3 linked regions of the Homo sapiens genome follow. The protein of the gene in region 3 interacts with the protein of the main gene of each other region in a biochemical or structural test. Each region holds a gene or a part of one and is shown on either strand. Other genes may lie near its edges.

Region 1 (7,897 bases), on a different chromosome or scaffold from region 3:
GTTTTTTGTCTCGTTCTTTTGCCCAGACTGAAGTGCAGTGGCATGATCTTGGCTCACTGCAATCTCCACCTCCCAGCAATTTTCCTGCCTCGGCCTCCAAAGTAACTGGGATTACAGGTGCGCGCCACCACACCTGGCTAATTTTGTATTTTTAGTAGAGACGGGGTTTCACCATGTTATCCAGGCTGGTCTCGAACTCCTGACCTCAAGTGATCCACCCACCTCAGCCTCCCAAAGTGCTGGTATTACAGGCTAGAGCTACCGAGCCCAGCCCATTTCCCTCCTTTTTATTGAGGCAACAGTTACATATAGCAAAGTACAGCTTGATTAATTTTTACAAATATATACCTGTAATCATCACCCAATTCAAGAGTGTGGATTCAATTAGCCAGGTGTGGTGGTGTGTGCCTGTAGTCCCAGCTGCTCAGGTGGCTGAGACAGGAGGATGGCTTGAGCCCGGGAGGTGGAGGCTGCAGTGAGTGGTGATCATGCCACTGCACTCTAGCCTGGGCGACAGAGTGAGATGTTGTCTAAAAAAAAAAAAAAAGTATGTGAATCCAATCCTCAAATGAAACTGCTGTATTCTATTTCCATGACATAACCCGAATCTTCCCATCTTCGCCACCATTCCCCCAATGCAAACCACCCTCATTCTTTTTTCTTTTTTTTTTTCTTTGAGACAGAGTCTCGCTCTGTAGCCTAGGCTGGAGTGCAGTGGCCCATGATCTCCACTCACTGCAAGCTCTGCCTCCCGGGTTCACATCATTCTCCTGCCTCAGCCTCCTGAGTAGCTGGCACTACAGGTGCCCGCCACCACACCCGGCTAATTTTTTGTATTTTTAGTAGAGATGGGGTTTCTCTGTGTTAGCCAGGATAGTCTCGATCTCCTGACCTCATGATCTGCCTGCCTTGGCCTGCGAAAGTGCTGGGATTATAGGCATGAGCCACCATGCCCAGCCTCTTTTTCTTTTTTCTTCTTTTGAGATGGAGTCTGGCTCTGTTGCCCAGACTGGAGTGTATTGGTGTGATCTCGCTCACTGCAATCACCTCCGCCTCCAGGGTTCAAGCAATTCCCCTGCCTCAGTCTCCCGAGTAGCTGGGACTACAGGCGTGTGCCATCACACCCGGCTAATTTTTGTATTTTTAGTAGAGACAGGGTTTCACCATGTTGGCCAGGTTGGTCTTGAACTCCTGACCTCAGGTGATCTCCCAGAAGTGCTGGGATTACAGGCATAAGCCACCACGCCCGGCCCAAACCACCCTGATTCTTGATTGCGTGGACTGTTCAGCACTAAAGAGATCTTTCTAAAAAACCAGGCCAGGTGCAGTGGCTCACATCTGTAATCCCAACACTTTGGGAGGCCGAAGCAGGTAGATCACCTGAAGTCAGGAGTTCAAGACCAGCTTCTGGCCAACATGGTGAAACCCTGTCTCTACTAAAAATACAAAAATTAGCTGGGCATGGTGATGCGTGCCTGTAATCCCAGCTACTTGGGAGGCTGAGGCAGGAGAATTACTTGAGCCTGGGAGGTGGGGGTTGCAGTGAGCTGAGATTGCACCACTGCACTCCAGCTTGGGCAACAGAGCAAGATTCCATCTCAATAAATAACTGAATTAATTAAATAAATAAAATAAAATAAACTGATCTGGCTGGGCGCAGTGGCTCACACCTGTAATCCCAGCACTTCGGTAGGCTGAGGCGGGTGGATCACCTGAGGTCAGGAGTTCAAGACTATCCTGGCCAACATGGTGAAACCCCATCTCTACTAAAAATACAAAATTTTGCCGTGTGTGGCGGCGGGTGCCTGTAGTCCCAGCTACTCGGGAGGCTGGGGCAGGAGAACTGCTTGAACCTGGGAGGCAGAGGTTGCAGTGAGCCGAGATCACACAACTGCACTCCAGACTGGGCAACAGAGGGATACTCTGTCTCAAAAACAACAACAAAAACTGATCAAGTTACCTTCTTGCTTTACGCCATCCAGTGTTCCCTGGCGTTAGTGTTCCCACATAAAATTAGTGTTCCCATATAAAATACGAACTCCTTGCCTTGGCCTGAAAGGTTTCAAGTAATCTGGCCCCTGTCCACCTCTCTGTCCTCATTTCCTCAGTGGAAGACTGATCTCATTCCATTCCAGCCATAGCCCGCCCTCCCTCTCTCCCTCCCTCCCTTCCTCCCTTCCTCCCCTCCTTTTTTTTGAAACAGGGTCTACTTTGTCACCCAGGCTGGAGTGCAGTGGTGCGATCACAGCTTACTGCAACCTCTGCCTCCCAGGCTCACCTCTGCCTCCCAGGTTCAAGAGATTCTTCCACCTCAGCCCCCCAAGTAGCTGGGACTACAGGCGTGTGCCATCACACCCGGCTGATTTTTGCATTTTTTGTAGAGACAGGGTTTCACCATGTTGCCCAGGCTGGTCTTTAACTCCTGAGCTTATGTGATCCACCCACCTCAACCTCCCAAAATGCTGGGATTACAGGCATGAGCCACTGCGCCCAGCCAGCCACAGCCTTTTCTTTTCTTTCTTTCTTTCTTTCCTTTTTTTTGAGATGGAGTCTCGCTCTGTTTCCCAGGCTGGAGTGCAGTGGTGCCATCTTGGCTCACTGCAAGCTCCGCCTCCCGGGTTCACGCCATTCTCTTGCCTCAGCCTCCCGAGTAGCTGGGATTACAGGCGCCCACCATCACGCCCGGCTAATTTTTGTATTTTTAGTAGAGACGGGGTTTCACCTTGTTAGCCAGGATGGTCTCGATTTCCTGACCTTGTGATCCACCCGCCTCAGCCTCCCAAAGTGCTGGGATTACAGGCGTGAGCCACCGTGCCCGGCCCAGCCACAGCATTTTCTTAAACACATCAGGCTGGTTCCCACCTTGAGACCTTTTTTTTTTTTTTTTTTTTTGAGGCAGAATCTTGCTCTGTCGCCAGGCTGGAGTGCAGTGGCGCGATCTCGTCTCACTGCGAACTCTGCCTCCCGGGTTCACGCCATTCTCCTGCCTCAGCCTCCTGAGTAGCTGGGACTACAGGTGCCCGCCACCACGCCCGGCTAATTTTTTTGTATTTTTAGTAGAGACGGGGTTTCATCGTGTTAGCCAGGATGGTCTCGATTTCCTGACCTCGTGATCCTCCTGCCTCGGCCTCCCAAAGTGCTGGGATTACAGGTGTGAGCCACCGCACCCGGCCACCACCTCGGGACCTTTGCACCTGCTGCTCCCTCTGTCTGGGAAGCCCTTCCCTCAAAACTTTGCCCAGCTGCTTCATCTGTTGAGGTCTTAGCCCAAATGTCTCCTCCTCAAAAAGTGCCCTCCCTGACCTTTGCTGAAGTTGCCCCTCCACGCTCCAGGAACTCTCTATTTTATTTTCTGAAGAGCTCTTATTTTCCTTATCTAATCACTTTCTTCCTTCTTGCTGATTTCCTACACTAAAATGTAAAGTCCCCAGGGGGCAGGGGCCGTTTGTGTCTAACACCCTGCTGCGTTGCATCCTTGTTGTACAGATCTGCACTGTCCATTATGATAGCCACTACCCATAGTGGGCTATTTAAAGTTAAGTTAATGAAAAATAAATATAATTAAGAATTTGGTTCCCCAGTCACACTAATTCCATTTCAAGTGCTCAATAGCCACATGTGGCTAGTGGCTATCATATTAGATACTATACTGAAGATGTAGAACATTTTCAACATTGCAGTGTTCTATTAGCTTTGGTCTAGAACCTACGTACCTCATAATAACAGGTGTTCAAGGGGGGTGTCAATTTAATAAAGATTTTTTTTTTTTTTTTGAGACGGAGTCTCGCTCTGTCGCCCAGGCTGGAGTGCAGTGGCGCGATCTCCGCTCACTGCAAGCTCCGCCTCCCGGGTTCACGCCATTCTCCTGCCTCAGCCTCCCGAGTAGCTGGGACTACAGGCGCCTGCCACCACACCCGGCTAATTTTTTTGTATTTTTAGTAGAGACGGGGTTTCACTGTGTTAGCCAGGATGGTCGTGATCTCCTGACCTCGTGATCCGCCCGCCTCGGCCTCCCAAGTGAATAAAGATTTCTTTTATCCTTATCTTATGAGTGAGAAAAACATAGCCCAGAGAGGTTGTTTCATTATCCCAAGGTCACACAGCCAGGAAGGAGCCTAGCAGAGATTTGAAGCCAGGCTTGTCTGGCTCTGAAGCACACACTACTCCCTTTCCCATCCAGCAGCCTCCTGGCTGTTTATGGAAGGATTGCTGCGCAGGATATTAAGGGATCTGCAGTCAATCCTGACTCCATCCCAGATTCATTGGCTGTGTGACCCTCAGCAAATCCCTTTGCTTCTCGGCCTCAGTTGCATTGCTAAAAAAATGAAGAAACTGACCCTGCCGTCCTGAGGGTTGGGGATGCGAGGCAGGGGGCCTTGTGTGACTCAGTTCATTCCCCAGATCCTGTCTGGCTCAGGGGCGGGCAAGCATCGTGGGTGAGGGGTCTTTTGGTTGGCCTGACCAGCTTTGGTTGATAGCTCCTGTTTCTTGAATGCCTACAGATGAGAAAGCGGAGGTAAAGTAACTTGGCCAAGGCTACACAGCAGAAGAGGCAGAAGTGGGATTCGAACCTGAGACTCTATGATATTACGTCCATGCCGCAAGACAGAGCTGGCACCTACGGGAATAACAAGGAGGTGGTGGCAGGGTAGTGAGCTCCCCGTCTCTGGGGGTGTGTGCAATCCGGCGCTGCGCTGTCAGCAGGGCAAGGGCTGGGGCCGGGGCCAAGACCACCAAGCCAGGCCCAGGCCCGCCCGCCTCCCGCGGCCGCCACGGCCAAGGCGTGAGCACGGGGCGGGGCGGGAGCTGCTATTTCTGTCTGGTGAGCGCAGCCCGCGCAGCTGGCGAGGGAGGGGGCGCCCGCGCCGCCATATTCCCTCCCGCCGGCCGGCTCCGCGGCGCGCAGCCACCATGAGCACCGCCGCCTTCCACATCTCCAGCCTCCTGGAGAAGATGACGTCCAGCGACAAGGACTTCAGGTGCAGCCCGCCGCCGGCCCCCTTCTCTCCTTCCCGCTCTGAAGCCGGGGGCCTTCTTCCCCTCTCGAAGCGCCAGCCCATCCCCCATGACCATGCAGCCCCCTGCCTCTTCTCTCTTCTCCCTGCATTAAGCTGCCCCCCTCCCCACAGGCCCACTCCTGCCTCGTGGTCCCCACTGGAGCTCCGGCCGTTCTCCCCTAGGGGCCGTCCTGCCCCTCCGCGACTCCAGTCCCTGCTTCGTCTCCCACCGTGCAGGCTTCAGCCCTACCTCTCACCCCCGATCAGAGCCCCGGCTCCACCCCTCTGCACCCTGCCTCGGCCTCTCCTCCCTCGTGTGTGTCCGGCCCCCTTCTTCCCCCGCAGCTGATGCCCCAGCGCCCCCTCCCCCCCGCCCCCACCACCTTCAGCGAGCCCACAGTGAAGCCCTACGCCTCTCCCTGGGGACCCCAGCACCTGCCTCTCCTCCGCATTGAACCCGGACCCTTCCCGGGACCGCAACCCCCAGCTGACTTTCTCACTGGCACCCTCAGTGATGCCTCCTTCTCAACATCACCCGGACCCCTCCCTCCCCGTCTCCCTCCCCTCCTGCGATTGTTCAGACCCAGCCTAAAGGAGGGGGCTGGGCTGAGTCTGGCTTTCCAGTCACAGGTAGGTGATGGTTGGGGTGGGACCTTCTAGGTTTTGTGTGCCACTCTCCTTCCCCACTCCCTTTTTCCTTCTTTCCCCCTCTCACAGCATCACAGAACCACAGGAATAGAGCTGAAAAGAACGGTGGAAACATCTGGTCCAATGAGTTTCCACCTGCATTCCCTGGGGAAACTGAGGCCCAGGGAGGAAAAGGGATTGGCCCGTGGTCTCATGGCCAGTTCTGGCCCCTCCAGCTGAAAGAAGACCTTGGAGACTCAATGAACATTTTTTCACTTTGTCCCCATTTTACAGATAGGGAAACTGAGTCTCAGAGACATGAAGGGCGTAGGTTCAGTCACAGCGAGGAAGTGGGAGACTTAGTCCAAATCCAGGCCAGTCTAATACAGAGGCCAAGATCTTAGTGAGGTCCTCTGATTCCAGCCCCCTGACAGGTGAGGAGACAGACCTGCTCTGGTGGTCTGACTCCTACTCTTCTCCTGCAGCCCATTCCTCAGTACCCCTCAAGAGCCCCCCCACATTAATAGAGCCTGGGATCCAAGGTCTTGGCTTCAGATCCCAGCTGCCGTCACTCACTGGCCGTGTGACCATGGACAAGTAACTTAACCCCCATGAGTCTCCCTGTGCTTCTGTTTCTATAAAATGGGGATAACAGAACCCATCTCTGAGGGTTGGGGTAAGGATTAAATAAGATAGTACATGTGAAATGCTCAGGTTCATGGCAGGCACTAGGTCGGTGCTTCATAAACGGACACTGTTATGATTCTGTGCACATCCAAAATCTGCCACGCCCTGTCCCCTCTCTAGACCTTCACTAGGGGGATTCTTTGCTCTCCCTTGACCTCCTCCCTTCATCTGACAGCTCCTATAACTCTTGACCCCAGGCAGGATTAGGTACCTCCTTTCAGCTCCCATCATGCCTCCCCTCATGTTTCTGCTAGATCACTTTTCAGCCCTGGGAGACCCTGAGCTCCTGGGCCACTGGGACTATGCACTTCCTCTTAGTGCCCCAACACCTGTGCTGAGTACACGGTAGGTGCTTAGTGAATGTTCGCTGGGTCCCAGGCTCCCTACTGTGCACCCCACGTGTAATCTCAGTCCACCCATGGGTGGTAGTGATTGTTCTTCCTGTTTTCCGGAGGCTTGGAGGAGTGCAGTGACTTGCCCAAGGTCACAGAGCTGGCTAGTGGCCTAGGGGATTTGCGCTAGTGTCTCTCAGGCCTCTGGTCCAGTCTCTGGGAGAGGGAGTTGGCCCTGCCAGCTACAGCCCGAGAAGCCCTTTCAGCCTGTCTCTGCCAGTGGCCTGGAGAACACTTAAAACCACCCCAAGCATGTGAGAATGGTGTCTATTTTTAAAGTCCGAATACCAGGGTGCTGGGTCCTGCAGACCAGCTGTCCAGGCGTCCGTGTGGCCAAGGGTTTCAGCTGAGTTGCCTCTAGGGTTTCTCTGTAATGAAACTGAGACTGTCCTCTGGTTCCTGGAGCGGGGCAGCGACTGCAAATGGGGGTCCCAGGTGGGGTGGAGGGAGACCTTTGTTTCCTGTTCTTCCTGGGCCCTGGCTTTATGGGCAGGAGGTGCCCCATTACCACGGAGGCTCCAGCAGTCAAAACGAGTACCCTTGCAGGTCTTGCAGGAATTACCAAGTCATTTCTTGAAAACACAGTAGTATTATTGGTTGAAAAGCCAGGAGACCTGTGTGGTGGGCTGGTTTTCCGCCCAGTTTGCTGTTACCGTAGGCAGTTTGTGCAGCCTCCCTGAGCCTAGTTTTCTTACTACCTCATGCTAAGAGCTAGATTGTCCTATTGAAACCTCCCAAGGATACTATGAGGTAGGGCAAAGAAAAGTTCCCATTTTATATATAGAAAATCTGAGGCCCAGAGAAAAGGAGGTAGTTGCCCAATGTCACCTAGTTGATAAATGGCAAGACTAGTAAGTATACTCACTTAAAGCCAAACTTTGGTGCTCAAGCTCTTATCCACCAAATTATATACTTTTCCTTCTCTCTCCCATCCCTACACACATACACGTATAAAACATGGCTTGCTTTCTCCGAGAGCTAGTGTCTGCAGGAACCAGGGGTGTCTGAAATGCTGAGGCATACTTCAGAAGAGTTGGTTTCTGAATTCGGACTATTTGGCTGTAAGTTCTGTTAAGGGCTAGCTCTCTCACTACCTCTCCTCCTGCTCTCACCCTCCCTGACAAAGCCCTCTGCAGACCTGTTCTTTGTTGAGCCTGGAGTCCCAGAGATAAACCTGATGAGCCTCTGCCCTCA
Region 2 (7,104 bases), about 16 Mb from region 3:
ACGAGGATACCTGTCTCCAGATCTCAGTAAGGTACGGAGTAACTGTCCAAAAGCCATGAAGAGATTAATGGCAGAGTGCCTCAAAAAGAAAAGAGATGAGAGACCACTCTTTCCCCAAGTAAGTAAAAGCTTCATGCTATCCAAAAGAACAGACTAACATTCATAGACAGATTTCTGAGCACTTTTTTGGGCACACAGTGTGTATTTCATGAGTTTGGATTCTATGTGCAGACTCCAGACAAGAAAACACATTAAGATGGCTTCATGAGGGTTGAGCAGTGGCACACCTAGAAATTTTGGGTCCTAATACAAAATATTCAGAAAGACTTTGCATTTGTCCATCAGTTCTCAGACTTCTCAGTCTTTGAACTCTTTTACACATTTAAAAATTATCGAAGACCCCCCCCCCCACAAAGAGCTTTTGTTTATATAAGTTTTAATTCCTTATTAGAAATTAAAACTATTTTTTAAAATATTAATGAATTAAACATAGTAAACCAATATGTTAAATAATATTTAGAAAAAAACAGTTCTATTATCTAAGAGAAAAAAATTAGTGAGGAGTTGTATTGTTTTACTTTTTTTGCAAATCCCTTTGCAAAAAGAAGACAGCTGGATTCTCCGCTTTTGCACTCACATTGCAATATCTCACATCATGTCACCCCTAAAAACTCTACTTAACGCTTGTAAAATAATGACAGTAAAAAAGGCAAATGATATCTTATTGTTATTACAAAAATAGTTTTGACCTCGTGGATCCCCTGGTGGTCCACGGACCACATTTTGTGAACCACTGCTTTATTTCTTCTTGGTGGTAAACAGATTCAAGCTTTCCTTTAATACTGGGTCTTTTTGAGGGGCATTTCTGCCTGATGCAGAAAAAGGAAAAGGCAGTAAGGCATTTGTCAGCTCAGCCTGCCTTTACCTAATTCTTGATAACTCACTGCTTTTTTTTTTTTTTTTCCATATTGGAAGGATAAAGCCTTAAGTTAACAAATTTCAAAAAGAACTGTAACTAAGGCCAGGTGTCGTGGCTTACAAATCTCAACACTTTGGGAGGCCAAGGCAGGCAGATCAGTTGAGGTCAGGAGTTCGAGACCAGCCTGGCCAACATGGTGAAAACCGTCTCTACTAAAAATACAAAAATTAGCTGGGCATAGTGGCAGGAGCCTGTAATCCCAGCCACTCAGGAGGCTGAGACATGAGAATCGCTTGAACCCAGGAGGTGGAGATTGTAATGAGCTGAGATGACACCACTGCATTCCAGCCAGGGCAACAGAATGAGACTCTGTTTAAAACAAAACAAAACAAAAATATCTAAATACCTCAACTAGCTTACAGAGTTTAGCTGTAGTAGATATTATAATATAAATGCAATGTTTTCTGATACTTAGGGAGCTCCTGATAGCACTGGATAAATATGCCTTGATGAATCAGTACAGTTTCAAGTGGGAAGTGCTATTTCCCATAGTAACCCTGCTACCATAATTACTGGAGTGTTCATGTATGAACTCTTAGGCCTTTGAATGCCCAGTCCTAGCTGAGTAACTCAGACAGAAGTCAATGTTACAGGAATTAGATTCACTCATCCTTTATTTTTAAATCTAAAAAATGTTATTCTTCTCTAAAGAATGAAAGAAGATAAAATTGATGGTTTTAACAAGTCTGTCAGGGTGTTGCCTAAGAAAAGAAAGGGAAAGCTAAGTGGTTGGCTGGGTAGATATAAGTTTCATTTATCAGGTTTCAAAGTTACTGTTCCTTTGAGGAAGAGTTTTTATTTTTTCTTTTTATTTTTTTATTTGTTTCTCTAAGTCAGGAAACCTCTGGGTTGAGACTGTCCTGGTGAGAGACAAGTGCTGCTGAGCAGCTTCAGCATGACCCTGTCCCATGTTCTCTTTTCACGTCATGGTGCTCGGGTTCTTACTTAGAATGTTTATTGACATTAATAATGCAAAGTACATCCTTAGGCCCACTTTTTAAATGATATTAAAAGGGGCAAAATGCTTAGCTCCATACTTCTAAATATAACATTTCATTAATTACATGGTTTCAAAAACTGAAGTGCATATGTGAACTTTCCAGATTATTGGAGGCTATCCCTTTAAAGTGTTATTTTGAAATTTTTGTTACAGGATATCTTTTCACACCATACTGTTATATGCCACATAAATTTTAGATGGCTGAAGATCTATATGTTTTATAAAATATGAAATCATTTTTATAGTTTTGAGGTAGGAAAGGCTTTCTTAATAGACAAAATTCAGAAGGAAAAAATTAGCAGATGTGAGTACATTAAAAATTTTTAAACTTCTATATAGAAAAATAACATTGAAAGATAAAAAGAATAATTGTAGCATATATAACAAAAAGTAAATGTTTATAATATACAAAGGACTCCTCCAAATCAATAAGTAACAAACAATAGAAAATGGGCAAAGGGAATATGAACAGGTGATTCACATAATAAATACAAATGGTGAATGAACTTAGGAAAAGGTGTAAATATTTCCATGGCAGTCAGTAAAATGCAAAGACACAACAGTGAAATATATTTTAATTTCGCCTCTCAGGTTGGTAATATCCAGCACTGGGAACAATGTTGGGAAGTGAGGAGGAGCATTCTATGTAAAATTTTAAAGGTTTGGTGGAAGGCAGCATTTTGGAAGACCTTGGTAGAATCCATAAATTCAAAATACTTCTAAAAATCTGTGCTATGTAACCTATTTCATAAGTATTCAGATATATATAAGAATGTTTACTATAATAAGAAAAAGACATTAAGATTAAGTTAGTTTTGTATTGATGACATGGATATTGGTGAGAGAAAAAGAAAACAAGACAGAAAACAAAATGTAGTATGATACCTCATTTTTTTTTTTTATAGGCTGGGCCTGTTCTGTTGCCCAGGCTGGAGTGCAGTAATATGATCATAGCCCACTGCAGCCTCAAACTCCTGGGCTCAAGCGATCCTCTCACCTCAGCCTCCTAAGTAGCTGGGATTGCAGGTGCCTATCACCACACCCAGCTAATTTCTTGTGGTGGTGGTGGTGGTGGTTGTAGAGATAGATTCTCACTATGTTGCCCTGGCTGGTCTTGAACTCCTGGCCTCAAGCGATCCTCTCGCCTCAGCCTCCCAAAGTGCTGGGATTACAGGCGTGAGCCCCAGTGCCCAGCCTGATAACCACTTTAAAAGGTTAAACAGAGGCCAGGCACGGTGGCTCACGCCTGTAATCCCAGCACTTTGGGAGGCCGAGGCAGGCGGATCACCTGAGGTTGGGAGTTCGAAACCAGCCTGACCAACATGGAGAAACTCTGACTCTACTAAGAATACAAAATTAGCCAGGCGTGGTGGCACATGCCTGTAATCCCAGCTACTCGGGAGGCTGAGGCAGGAAAATCATTTGAACCCAGGAGGCGGAGGTTGCGGTGAGCCGAGATCGCACCATTGCACTCCAGCCTGGGCAACAAGAGTGAAATTCCATCTCCAAAAAAAAAAAGTGGTGTTCAGGTGGGCCTTGTTTTCATGTATGTATTTTTATACATAAAAAAAGGTACTGAAGAGGCCAGGCGCAGTGACTCACACCTGTAATCCCAGCACTTTGGGAGGCCAAGGTGGGTGGATCAGTTGAGGTTAGGAGTTCGAGACCAGCCTGGGCAAAATGGTGATACCCGTCTCTACTAAAAATACAAAATTATCCGGGCGTGGTGGCACACGCCTGTGATCCCAGCTACTCGGGAGGCTGAGGCAGGAGAATCGCTTGAACCTGGGAGGCGGAGGTTGCAGTGAGCTGAGATCGCGCCACTGCACTCCAGCCTGGACAATAGAGTGAGACTCCATCTCAAAAAAAAAAAAAAAAGGTACAGAAGAAAGTATAGACTCTAACAGTGGTTATCCCTGGAGAGCAGGATTTGAGAGCCTTATACTCTTTATACATTTCTATAGTATTTTAATTTTTATTTGCATGTTATACTTGGAATTTACAATTTTTTGCAACTGCTTACTTCTTTGTCTTATACTAATCATCATAAAGATTACTTTTTAAAAAAAATTTAACTTTTAAAAACAATTTTCAGCCAGGCATGGTGGCTCATGTCTGTAATCCCAGCCCTTTGGGAGGCCGAGGCAGGCAGATCACCTGAGGTCAGGAGTTTGAGACCAGCCTGGCCAACGTGGTGAAACCCTGTCTCTGCTAAAAATACAAAAATTTAGCTGGGCATGGTGGTGCGCTCCTGTAATCCCAGCTACTCAGGAGGCTGAGGCAGGAGAATCGCTTGAACCCAGGAGGGGGAGGTTGCAGTGAGCTGAGATTGTGCCACTGCACTCCAGCCTGGTTGACAACAGCGAGACTCCGTTTCAAAAAAAAAAAAAAATTGGTATCTCAGGACAATAACAAAAGTAATAATAATAGCTGCTAAGGTTTTATTGAGTGCTTATTATAGGCCAGGCATTATGCCAAGCCCTTTAAACATGTTTCATGATTATGAACATGCATTATCATGCTGTATGCCTTCAAGGATTATAACCTGTTTCTTTGTGCCTTAAAATTGTGAATTTCTGCATTTTATATATTGGGGTCTATTTGTCGAGTTCTCCTATCTTTGCTCTTGGGTTGTCCCCTGTCACTTCTCATGTGCTACTAGCACTCTGGGTCTGTGAGGTTCTGCTTTCAATTAGGTGTATGTAAAACATTTCCCATGGCTAGGTTTCTTTAAAGGGCAAGTAGCTGTGATAATTCTGTTTAGAGATAGTCATAAAGTGCTTTACTTATTTATACTCCATCTTCTTCCCAAAAGAGACTTGTGGTCTATAACAAAAAGGTATAAAATTGGTTTTAAATTTCTATTATTTACTGTTTCAAGACTAACAAATGATCTAAAATATAAATAAAAGCTGACTAAGAATTACTCTCCCCATTTAATTTACAGAGAGAGTTTCTTCTTAAGAAAAAATACCAATTATTTACAAATATTTTCCCAAGCATTTATGACAATGCTGAAAACAATGTAAGATTTCAGGTGCTTTCTTGTAAAGTGTGATGGGACTCTTAAAGATTTATACCACCCAGATTTTCATTCTTCTTTCTGTTTTTTCTTTTTCTTTCTTTCTTTTTTTTTCTTTTTTCTTTTTTTTTCTTTTTTTTTTCTTTTTTTTTTTGTAGATTCTCGCCTCTATTGAGCTGCTGGCCCGCTCATTGCCAAAAATTCACCGCAGTGCATCAGAACCCTCCTTGAATCGGGCTGGTTTCCAAACAGAGGATTTTAGTCTATATGCTTGTGCTTCTCCAAAAACACCCATCCAGGCAGGGGGATATGGTGCGTTTCCTGTCCACTGAAACAAATGAGTGAGAGAGTTCAGGAGAGTAGCAACAAAAGGAAAATAAATGAACATATGTTTGCTTATATGTTAAATTGAATAAAATACTCTCTTTTTTTTTAAGGTGAACCAAAGAACACTTGTGTGGTTAAAGACTAGATATAATTTTTCCCCAAACTAAAATTTATACTTAACATTGGATTTTTAACATCCAAGGGTTAAAATACATAGACATTGCTAAAAATTGGCAGAGCCTCTTCTAGAGGCTTTACTTTCTGTTCCGGGTTTGTATCATTCACTTGGTTATTTTAAGTAGTAAACTTCAGTTTCTCATGCAACTTTTGTTGCCAGCTATCACATGTCCACTAGGGACTCCAGAAGAAGACCCTACCTATGCCTGTGTTTGCAGGTGAGAAGTTGGCAGTCGGTTAGCCTGGGTTAGATAAGGCAAACTGAACAGATCTAATTTAGGAAGTCAGTAGAATTTAATAATTCTATTATTATTCTTAATAATTTTTCTATAACTATTTCTTTTTATAACAATTTGGAAAATGTGGATGTCTTTTATTTCCTTGAAGCAATAAACTAAGTTTCTTTTTATAAATTTTGAGTGCAGGTGACCAAAAATATTGCTGAGGAGTGGCACGTTTGACATGAGTAAAATGTCTTAACTTCGGATTTTTAGCGGGAAAATGTTATAAATTGGAGTTTCTTTTAAATAGCTTTTTTTAAAATACATTAAGGATGTCTCGCTCATGTAGAAGTCAAATTTTGTTGCAAACGCATTGCTCCCTTCACACCCAATCTCTCCCCTGCAAAAAATCTTCACAGAATTCTGTGAGAACTTTTAGGTGTGTTTTTCTTTGAGATACCTCTGGTTGCCAAACACCAGGTAATAGATTTTTTAAAGTTGTTATTAGATTATTCTTACCTCTCATGATGCATATTTTAGCAATCACCTTATCATTGTGTCTCATGTTCTGTCCTCCTTATATTCTTTGCCCAGCAAGATTCTACTTATGATGAATGAATGCTCTTCTCCTTTTTTCATTCAATGGTATGAAGTATTTGTTAGGGTTCTTTAGTACTTACACTTTGTTGTGTAGAAAATGACTGTAATGTGGTGGTCAGTGTATTCTTACTGTGATTCAGAGGGAATCAAAAGTAGAAAGCAACAGCACGTGGTCCTATCAAAGATTTGGCCATCTCTGCTTCACTGTCAGCCTCTTAACTATATCTTCACTTACTCAATTTGGTTTTGTCATGATTTTTAAATGTAGCCAATAGATCAAGGTTCTTCCAGTAAACACATATCTGCATAAATGCCTCCTTGAAGTCAATAAAGAAGGAAATTGAGAAGACTTTAAATTAATGATAATTTAGTTTTTAAGTACCCACAAATAAATTTTTGAAACATTTTCTTTATTTGAATACTTAGATGTCATCCAGGAAAATCACTCAATAATAATTACGGCAAATCTTTAACCCCTCATTTGGGTAGCTTAAGATAAGTAATGCCATTATGAATCAGAATTGATTCATGACTTTAGTTAAGAAAATGAAAAGGAACATTTCACGTATTTTTAAAAATGATACTAAGGAATAAAGAAGTACAACTATTGGAAAATATCTAAGTATATGATTTTTAAATCCTCCAGTGGCATTAAATATATGATTATTAGTAATTGTTAGATAGGGTTTTATTCATTCACAAATAGAAGACTAGCAAGCATGTAACTAACAAAGTTTTTACAAAATTGACTTTGTGGAATGCTCCAAATGTTTGGCCA
Region 3 (7,559 bases):
CTTCATTAGGAATCATGTTAAAGATGCTGAAATGATCCTGATAAGACAGATTTTCCTGTGGCATCACTGGTTCTCCAGTGGACACCAGGGGAAGAAGTGGCTCATGGAGCAGGGCCACCCAGCAGACGCACCGACCTCAGCACAGAGGAGCACCCACCCTGGGCTGACTGTGGAAACAGACCAGATGCCAGGCAGCGGTGTTGAGATGGGCAGAGGTGCAGTCAGGAGCACTTCTTCCCTACCCATGTGGGCCGGTCAGAACATTTGAAAGAGGCCCAGCAGATGTGGGACAGCACCCCCCAGTTACCAGCAACACTGAGGTTGGTGTGAGATTCACATGGGCATTCTTGCTCCTCCTCCTAGTCCAGACATTGGAAGGGTTCATTCGAAGCAGAATCTCAGACTTCAGGCTGGGCGCGGTGGCTCACGCCTGTAATCCCAGCACTTTGGGAGGCCAAGGCGGGCGGATCATCTGAGGTCAGGAGTCCAAGATCAGCCTGATCAACGTGGTGAAACCCCATCTCTACTAAAAACACAAAAATTAGCCGGGCATGGTAGCGCACCTATAATCCCAGCTACTCGGGATGCTGAGACAGGAGAATCGCTTGAACCCAGGAGGTGGAGAGGTGGAAGCTGCAGTGAGCCAAGATCACGCCATTGCACTCCAACCCGGGCAACAAGAGCAAGACTCTGTCTCAAAAAAAAAAAAAAAAAAAAAAGAATCTGAGACTTCAGAGCAGACTTACAGAGGTCACAAATATTGATATTACCAATTTTAAATCTTTGCTAACCTGACAGGTAAAAACAAAAGGTTATATCTTTTTTAATTGACAAAATTTGTAAGCTTTCAAAATGGTAAAATTGGGACATTTTATGATTAAAAATACATTCTATACTGTTGCAGTTCAAATATATGTATGAACTATGATAGTTCATACATATATACGAACTGTGACCTTGTTCACATATATATACACACACACATTTGTGTCTGGGTGTGGGTGCCTTAGTCTATTTGGGTTGCTATAACAAAATGCCTTGGCCTGGGTAATTTTTGGACAACAGAAATATATCTCTCACAGCTCTGGAATCTGGGAAGTCCAAGATCAAGGCACCCCACATTCTGCGTCTGAGGACTCTGCTTCATAGATGGTGCCTTCTTGCTGTGTCTCCCCATGGCAGGAGGGACAAACAGGCTGCCTTGGGCACTGATTTCCTTCATGGGGGTGGAGCCTCATGCTATAAGACTTCCTAATGGCCCCTCCTCTTAATACGATCACATTGGGGACTAAGTTTCAAACTATGATTTTGGGGAGACACCAACATTCAGACAACAGTAGAGTGTTTGTATATCTTTCTAACCATCTATCTGTCTATATTTAATTTATATGGCAGATTTTTTCAAACTGTGAGCTGAGACCCATTAGTGGATTGTGAAACGTATTTAGTGCTTTGCGTCTAGCATTAAAAAGAAGACGACGACAGTGGGTGCAGTGGCTCATGCCTGTAATCCCAGCACTTTGGGAGGCCGAGGCAGGAGGATCTCTTGAGCCCAGGAATCTGAGACCAGCCTGGGCAACATAATGAGACCCACCTCTACAAGAAGTGGGGGGGGGGGGAAAGCTGGGGGGTTGGGGGGAAAGCCAGGCTACTGGCACACACCTGGTCCAGCCATTTGGGACGCTGAACTGGGAGAATTGCCTGAGCACAGGAGGTTGAGGCTGCAGTTAGCTGTGATCGTACCACAGCACTCCAGCCTGGGCAATACAGTGAGACCCTGTCTCAAAAAAATAATAATAAAATAAAATAAAAAGACAGAATTTTTTTTAAAAAAAACAGTGCATTCCACATAGTAATGACAAATATTAGTTTTAAAATTTGGCTTTTCCCAATTAAAAAACGAGCAAAGGGCCTGAATTTTTCCAAATAGACATAAAAACGGCCAAGAGGTAATGAAAAGGTGCTCATCGTCAATAACCGTCAAGGAAATGCAAAACAAAACCACAATGAAATATCACCTCACAGTATTAGCATGGCTATTATCCAAAAGACAAGTGTTGGTGAGGGTGTGGGGAAATAGAAGCCTTTGCCCATCGTTGGAGGTACAGCCATTATGGCAAACAGTATGGAGTTTCCTCAAAAAAAACAAAACTGGAACTACCACATGACTCAGCGATCCCTCTGCTGGTTATATATCTACAGGAAATGAAATTGTTTCTTCTGGAGCTCCTCTCAGTTCATTGCAACATTATTCATAACAGCAAGATACAGAAGGAATTCCTGTCATTGGCTACATGTGTGAACCTGGAGGACATGATGCCAAGTTAAATAAGCGAGACAGAGAGAAAGATACTGATGAGCTCACTTATACGTGGAATCCAACAGTCAAATCCTATCTAGAAACAGAGAGTAGAGTGGTGCTTCCTGGGGCTGGGAAAAATGGGGAGAGATATGTAAAAGGAAACACACTCGCAGTTATGTAGCATAAATATGCCCACAGATCTAATGTTCACAGGAGGACTGTTTATTATTATTGTTATTAATTTTTATTTTTATTTATTTATTTTGAGACGGAGTCTCCCTCTGTTCCCCAGGCTGGAGTGCAGTGGCGCGAGTGGCGCGATCTCGGCTCACTGCAAGCTCCGCCTCCCGGGTTCACGCCATTCTCCTGCCTCAGCCTCCCAAGTAGCTGGGACTACAGGCGCCTGCCACTATGCCTGGCTAATTTTTTTGGTATTTTTAGTAGAGACGGGGTTTCACTGTGTTAGCCAGGATGGTCTCGATCTCCTGACCTCGTGATCTGCCCGCCTCGGCCTCCCAAAGTGCTGGGATTACAGGCGTGAGCCACCGCGCCCGGCCTGTTTATTTTTATTTTTTGAGACAGAGTCTCACTCTGTCACCCAGGCTGGAGTACAGTGGCACGATCTCAGCTCATTGCAACCTCCGCCTCGCAGACACAAGCGAGTCTCTTGTCTCAGCCTCCCAAGCAGCTAGAAGTTTAAGAACTTTAAGTGGGGGACCACCTATACATAAACATGCCACCATGCTCAGCTAATTTTTGTACTTTTAGTAGAGACGGGGTTTCCCCATGTTGGCGAGGCTGGTCTCAAACTCCTGACCTGAGGTGATCCACCCACCTTAGCCTCCCAAAGTGCTGGGATTACAGGCGGCGCCAGGACTGTATTTCTTTTTTTTTTTTTTTTTTTGAGACGGAGTCTCTGTGTCGCCCAGGCCGGAGTGCAATAACACGATCTCAGCTCACTGCAACCTCTGCCTCCTGGGTTCAAGCAATTCTCCTGCCTTAGCCTCCAGAGTAGCTTGGACTACAGGCGTGCACCACCACACCGGCCTAAGTTTTGTATTTTATTAGAGATGGGGTTTCACCATGTTGGCCAGGCTGGTCTCGAACTTTTCACTTCAGGTGATCCGCCCGCCTTGGCCTCCCAGAGTGCTGGGATTACCGGCGTGAGCGACCGTGCTCGGCCGCAGGACGACTGTAGATGATATCGTATTGTGTGTTGAAATTTTGCTAAGAGAGTAGATTTTATGTACTCTTACCACACACACACAAAGAGGGTAGTCATTTCACAATGTCTCTATGAAATCATCATGTTGCACACCTTGTATACAACCAAAAATCAATTTTTAGAAATTGGTTTCAATCGTGTATGATATATATGTATATGCACATGTATATGAGATATTATGTATACGTATGTGTGGATATAAGACACATGTTTATGTATAGGTGGTCCCCAACTTAAAATGGCTCAACTTACAATTTTTTGACTTTGTGATGGGTTTATTGTAGCATTAAATACATTTTCAACTTACAATATTTTCATCTTACGATGGGTTTATCAGGACAAAGCCCCATGGTAAGTCCAGGAGCAAATATTTTTGCATACACAGGTATGTGTACATGATACATATTTATATGTATTGATGCTGTATCTATAGATGCATATGTGTGCTATGTATGAGGCAAATCTGCGCATGTCTGTGTACATGGTAAATATTTACGTCCGTCTGTGCGTGTCATAGACATAGAACAGGTGGGATGTAAACAGACGGGCTGGGCCTAGCTGCTCCTTTCCCGCCTCACTCGAGTCTGGCACCAGATTGGCCGCTCCCAGCCCGCTCCGGGTGCCGGCCCCTGCACCCCACCCTGCACCCCGCACCCTGCCCTGCACCCCATCCCGGCCCGTGCCTCGCACTCCACCTTTCCCGCACCCTGCCCCGCACCCAACACCTCCCGCGCCCCTCGCCGCGCTCCCCCAGCACGCACCAGGCCCCGCCCACTCCGCCGCGTGCCCAGCCCGCGTCACCGCCGTCCTCCCCAGGCTCCAGCGCGCCTTGCGGGGCCGCGCACGCTAGCGGAACCGCCGGGAAGAGCGCCGTGCCGTCAATGGCGGAGGCGCGCACGTCTGCAGGGCCGCGCACGTCTGCAGGGCCGCGCACGTCTGCAGGGCCGCGCACGTCTGCAGGGCCGCGCACGTCTGCAGGGCCGCGCACGTCTGCAGGGCCGCGCACGTCTGCAGGGCCGCGCACGCACTGACGGCTGACCGCCATCTTCCCTCCCGAGGCGGCAGTTCCAGGTGCAAGCGCCGGGTTTGCTGCCCGCTGGGCGCCCCTGCAGCGGCCCGAGCTGTGGCCGGCGTGGATGAGGGGCAGGCGAGGCAGGGCCGCCCCTCCAGTATTGCCGCCCCTCCCGCCCCAGGGCAGGGCTGGGAGGGTACAGCCCGGGGGCGGGCTCGGGTCGCCTCCCGGCCGCCGCGTCCTCGCTGCCCCGGGCCGGGCGGGCGGGCGCCGAGAGCCTCCCAGCCCGCCCCGTGCCCCGCCCGCCCGGCTGCTTCCGCGGCGGCGCTGCCCGCACATGGGCTAGGCTGCCAGGATGTTCAGCTTCGAAGGCGACTTCAAGACGCGGCCCAAGGTGTCCCTTGGCGGCGCGAGCAGGAAGGTGAGGGCCGGGCTGGCGGGGCGCCCTCGGCTCGGGGCCTGCGCGGCCGGGGCTCGGGGCTGGGACTCGGGGCTGGACTCGGGGCTGGACTCGGGGCCGAGACTTGGGGCTGGATTCGGGGCCTCCCTGGCGGGGACTCGGGGCTTCCTCGCCGGATCTCGGGGCCGCTCCGGCCGGGACTCGGGGTTGGACTCGGAGCCGAGACTTGGGGCCAGGACTCTGGCTGGGGCTTAGGACTGGACTCGGGGCCTCCCTGGCTGGAACTCGAGGCCGCGCCCGTGGGGGCCTTGCCTGTCCACTGCGCTTCGGGACCCGGGCGCGCTGGCCGTGGCTCCCTTCCATGCAGGAGGCCGGTGAACCCTGGCACGCTTTGTGCCACCCAAGGTGAACTTACCCTTTCTGGGTGTTTCCTTTCAGAAATGCGCTTTCCATGCTCGCTCCCGCATGGCATCAGGGAGTGGCTGCTTTTCGAATGCCACCTGAAGGGCGTTTTCGGTTGTAGAAGGTGAACGGCACGCATTTGCTGATGTCGATAATCTCTAAAGTAGAGGCAGAACGTCTCATGAATAGCCACGTGTTTGAATCCAAGACGAGGGCAATTATTTGCCACCAGCCTCCTGGAAACTGTGGAGAGACTCCGGACTTACATCTGTTGTGATCGACATTAAGTTGTTCGCATGGTAATTGTTTAGGATAAGGGTAGGCAAACCATGACGCCTCTGTTCTAGTCTAGAATTTCTAGCTGTCTGTCCCTGAAGACGGGCATCAGTTGGTTCACTGGAACCGCTAAGTCGTTGAACACTGTGTGGTCTTGTTCCCGCCCCTCCCTTCCCACCCCTTCCCATCATTTCTGAAATGTTCTTTAAAATGCTTCACCTAGTTTTTCTTGTCTATCAGTATATTCTGTATATCACAACCACCAGGTAGGCACATAACGCAGAGTGGGTGCTGGCAGGCCAAGGAGGAACTGCTGTTATTAAGATTGTGCTGTGGGGCTGTGTTTGGTGGTTTCTGAGGTTAGAAGGGAACCTGGGTAAAGAGTTGGGAGAGAAGTGTGCTGATAATTTTTCAGCTTTGAGGTTCGTGTGATGGTGATTGCTTGGAAGTCACTTGTGCTCCAGAACTAAGTACTGTGCAGTTAAGGGTGGTCGTGGTAGCACTTAGGGTCTTCCACGTTAATGAAAATGTTTTATGAGATCAAAGGATTTCTACAGTTAGGAGAGACTTCAGAGAATCTCAGGGCCAAATCGCCTTGCTTACAAGTTCGGAAGGTGAGCTGCAGAACATTTGAAGGAGTGCCCATTCACACAGCAAGCTAGTGGCAGACCATCTGAGACTCCATGCCATTTACACAGCGCCGCGCGGCCTCTGTTGCAGGCAGGAACACCCCACGGGCCACGGATGTTGGTCCCTTTTCACCAAGGAGTGCATCTCTGCTCTGAGGGAGTGAGATTTCTTAACTGTTGATCAGAATCTCAAGGGAAGATAGCACGAGCTGTGTAAAAGAATCACCCCTTTAAAAACAAAACTCTTTTTATTGAGGTATAACTTAAGATACAGTCAGGTTCACAAACACTAAAGAGATCCTTGTGCAAGTGAAATTGAGGAGGAAGGGCGAGAGGGAAGCTGGGTAGGGAAGGAAAAGGCGTCTCAGCTGGAGGCTAGCGTTAACCCCATCTCACCAGGAGCATGCTACAATTGGCCCTAATTGCGGCAGAGGGGTTGGTGGCTGCAGGCTGCTGCCCCTCCGGGATGAGGGTGGGAGTGTGGCACTGCTAACCCTGAGCCGAGGGCCATTCTTCTGGGAGAGAGTGGCAGTAAAGAGCCCTTAGTAGGAACTGGCAGCAGCTGGGGCATGGGTGCCCTGGCCTGGTTAAGGAATCTGGGTGGGGAGCCAGCTGTATGTACAGCTTGAAGGATTTTTGCATATGGACACTCTCCTGTAGATGGAACACCACTCACATCAAAGGAAGACCATCCCCAGCATTCCAGAGGCTCCCCTGCACTCTCACCCATTCATTACAGTCATATGTGACTTAAAGAGGGGGACGCTGTCACTAGTCCAGTTGGTTGTTGTGGGACCGTCCTAGAGTGCACTTAACAGAAACCTATAGCCAGTGTTGCCCACTGCACACCTAGCTGCTTGGTACAGCCCGTTGCCCCTATGCTACACACCTGGACAGCGTGTTTCTGTGCTGAATACTGTAGGCAGCTCTTCATGCAATGGTGAGTGTCTGTGCATCCAAACGTAGATACAGTAAAAATACAAATTATAATCTTATGGGACCACGGTGTATATGTGGTCTGTTGTCGACAGACTGAGAGGTCATTATGCCATGTATGTCTGTAGCCCCACAAAGGTGACTGTCCTTCTGACCTCCATTACTGTAGATGAGCGTTACCTGTTGAACTTCAGGGGCATGGAGCCACTCACCACTTGTCGTTTGTGCCCGGCTGCTTTGGCTTGGCTTCTGTCTGAGAGGTGGACTCCATCCGCCTCGGTGCACGGCATTGCCCTTTGTGTGAACGCACCGTGGCTGATTCTGTTTTCTTACAGACCTTTGCTGTGTGTGCCTTTTGGTGCACATAATACTCTTGT

Evidence for each region.
Region 1: of the proteins of UBE3C (region 3) and CAND2, one has a biochemical effect on the other in vitro, tested with the Homo sapiens proteins (one study listed by BioGRID).
Region 2: the proteins of UBE3C (region 3) and BRAF form a complex in vitro, tested with the Homo sapiens proteins (one study listed by BioGRID).

Annotation. Positions count from the first base shown.
Region 1 is NC_000003.12:12,791,810-12,799,706, forward strand, and holds the start of CAND2 (cullin-associated NEDD8-dissociated protein 2), read left to right. Parts: upstream 1-4,870; 5' UTR 4,871-4,911; coding exon 4,912-4,979; intron 4,980-5,396; exon of another isoform or gene 5,397-5,627; intron 5,628-7,897.
Region 2 is NC_000007.14:140,732,826-140,739,929, reverse strand, and holds part of BRAF (serine/threonine-protein kinase B-raf), read left to right. Parts: coding exon 1-118; intron 119-5,159; coding exon 5,160-5,333; 3' UTR 5,334-7,104. UniProt on the Homo sapiens protein: Protein kinase involved in the transduction of mitogenic signals from the cell membrane to the nucleus. Phosphorylates MAP2K1, and thereby activates the MAP kinase signal transduction pathway. Phosphorylates PFKFB2.
Region 3 is NC_000007.14:157,134,379-157,141,937, forward strand, and holds the start of UBE3C (ubiquitin-protein ligase E3C), read left to right. Parts: upstream 1-4,547; 5' UTR 4,548-4,894; coding exon 4,895-4,960; intron 4,961-5,411; exon of another isoform or gene 5,412-5,637; coding exon of another isoform or gene 5,638-5,640; intron 5,641-7,559. UniProt on the Homo sapiens protein: E3 ubiquitin-protein ligase that specifically catalyzes 'Lys-29'- and 'Lys-48'-linked polyubiquitin chains.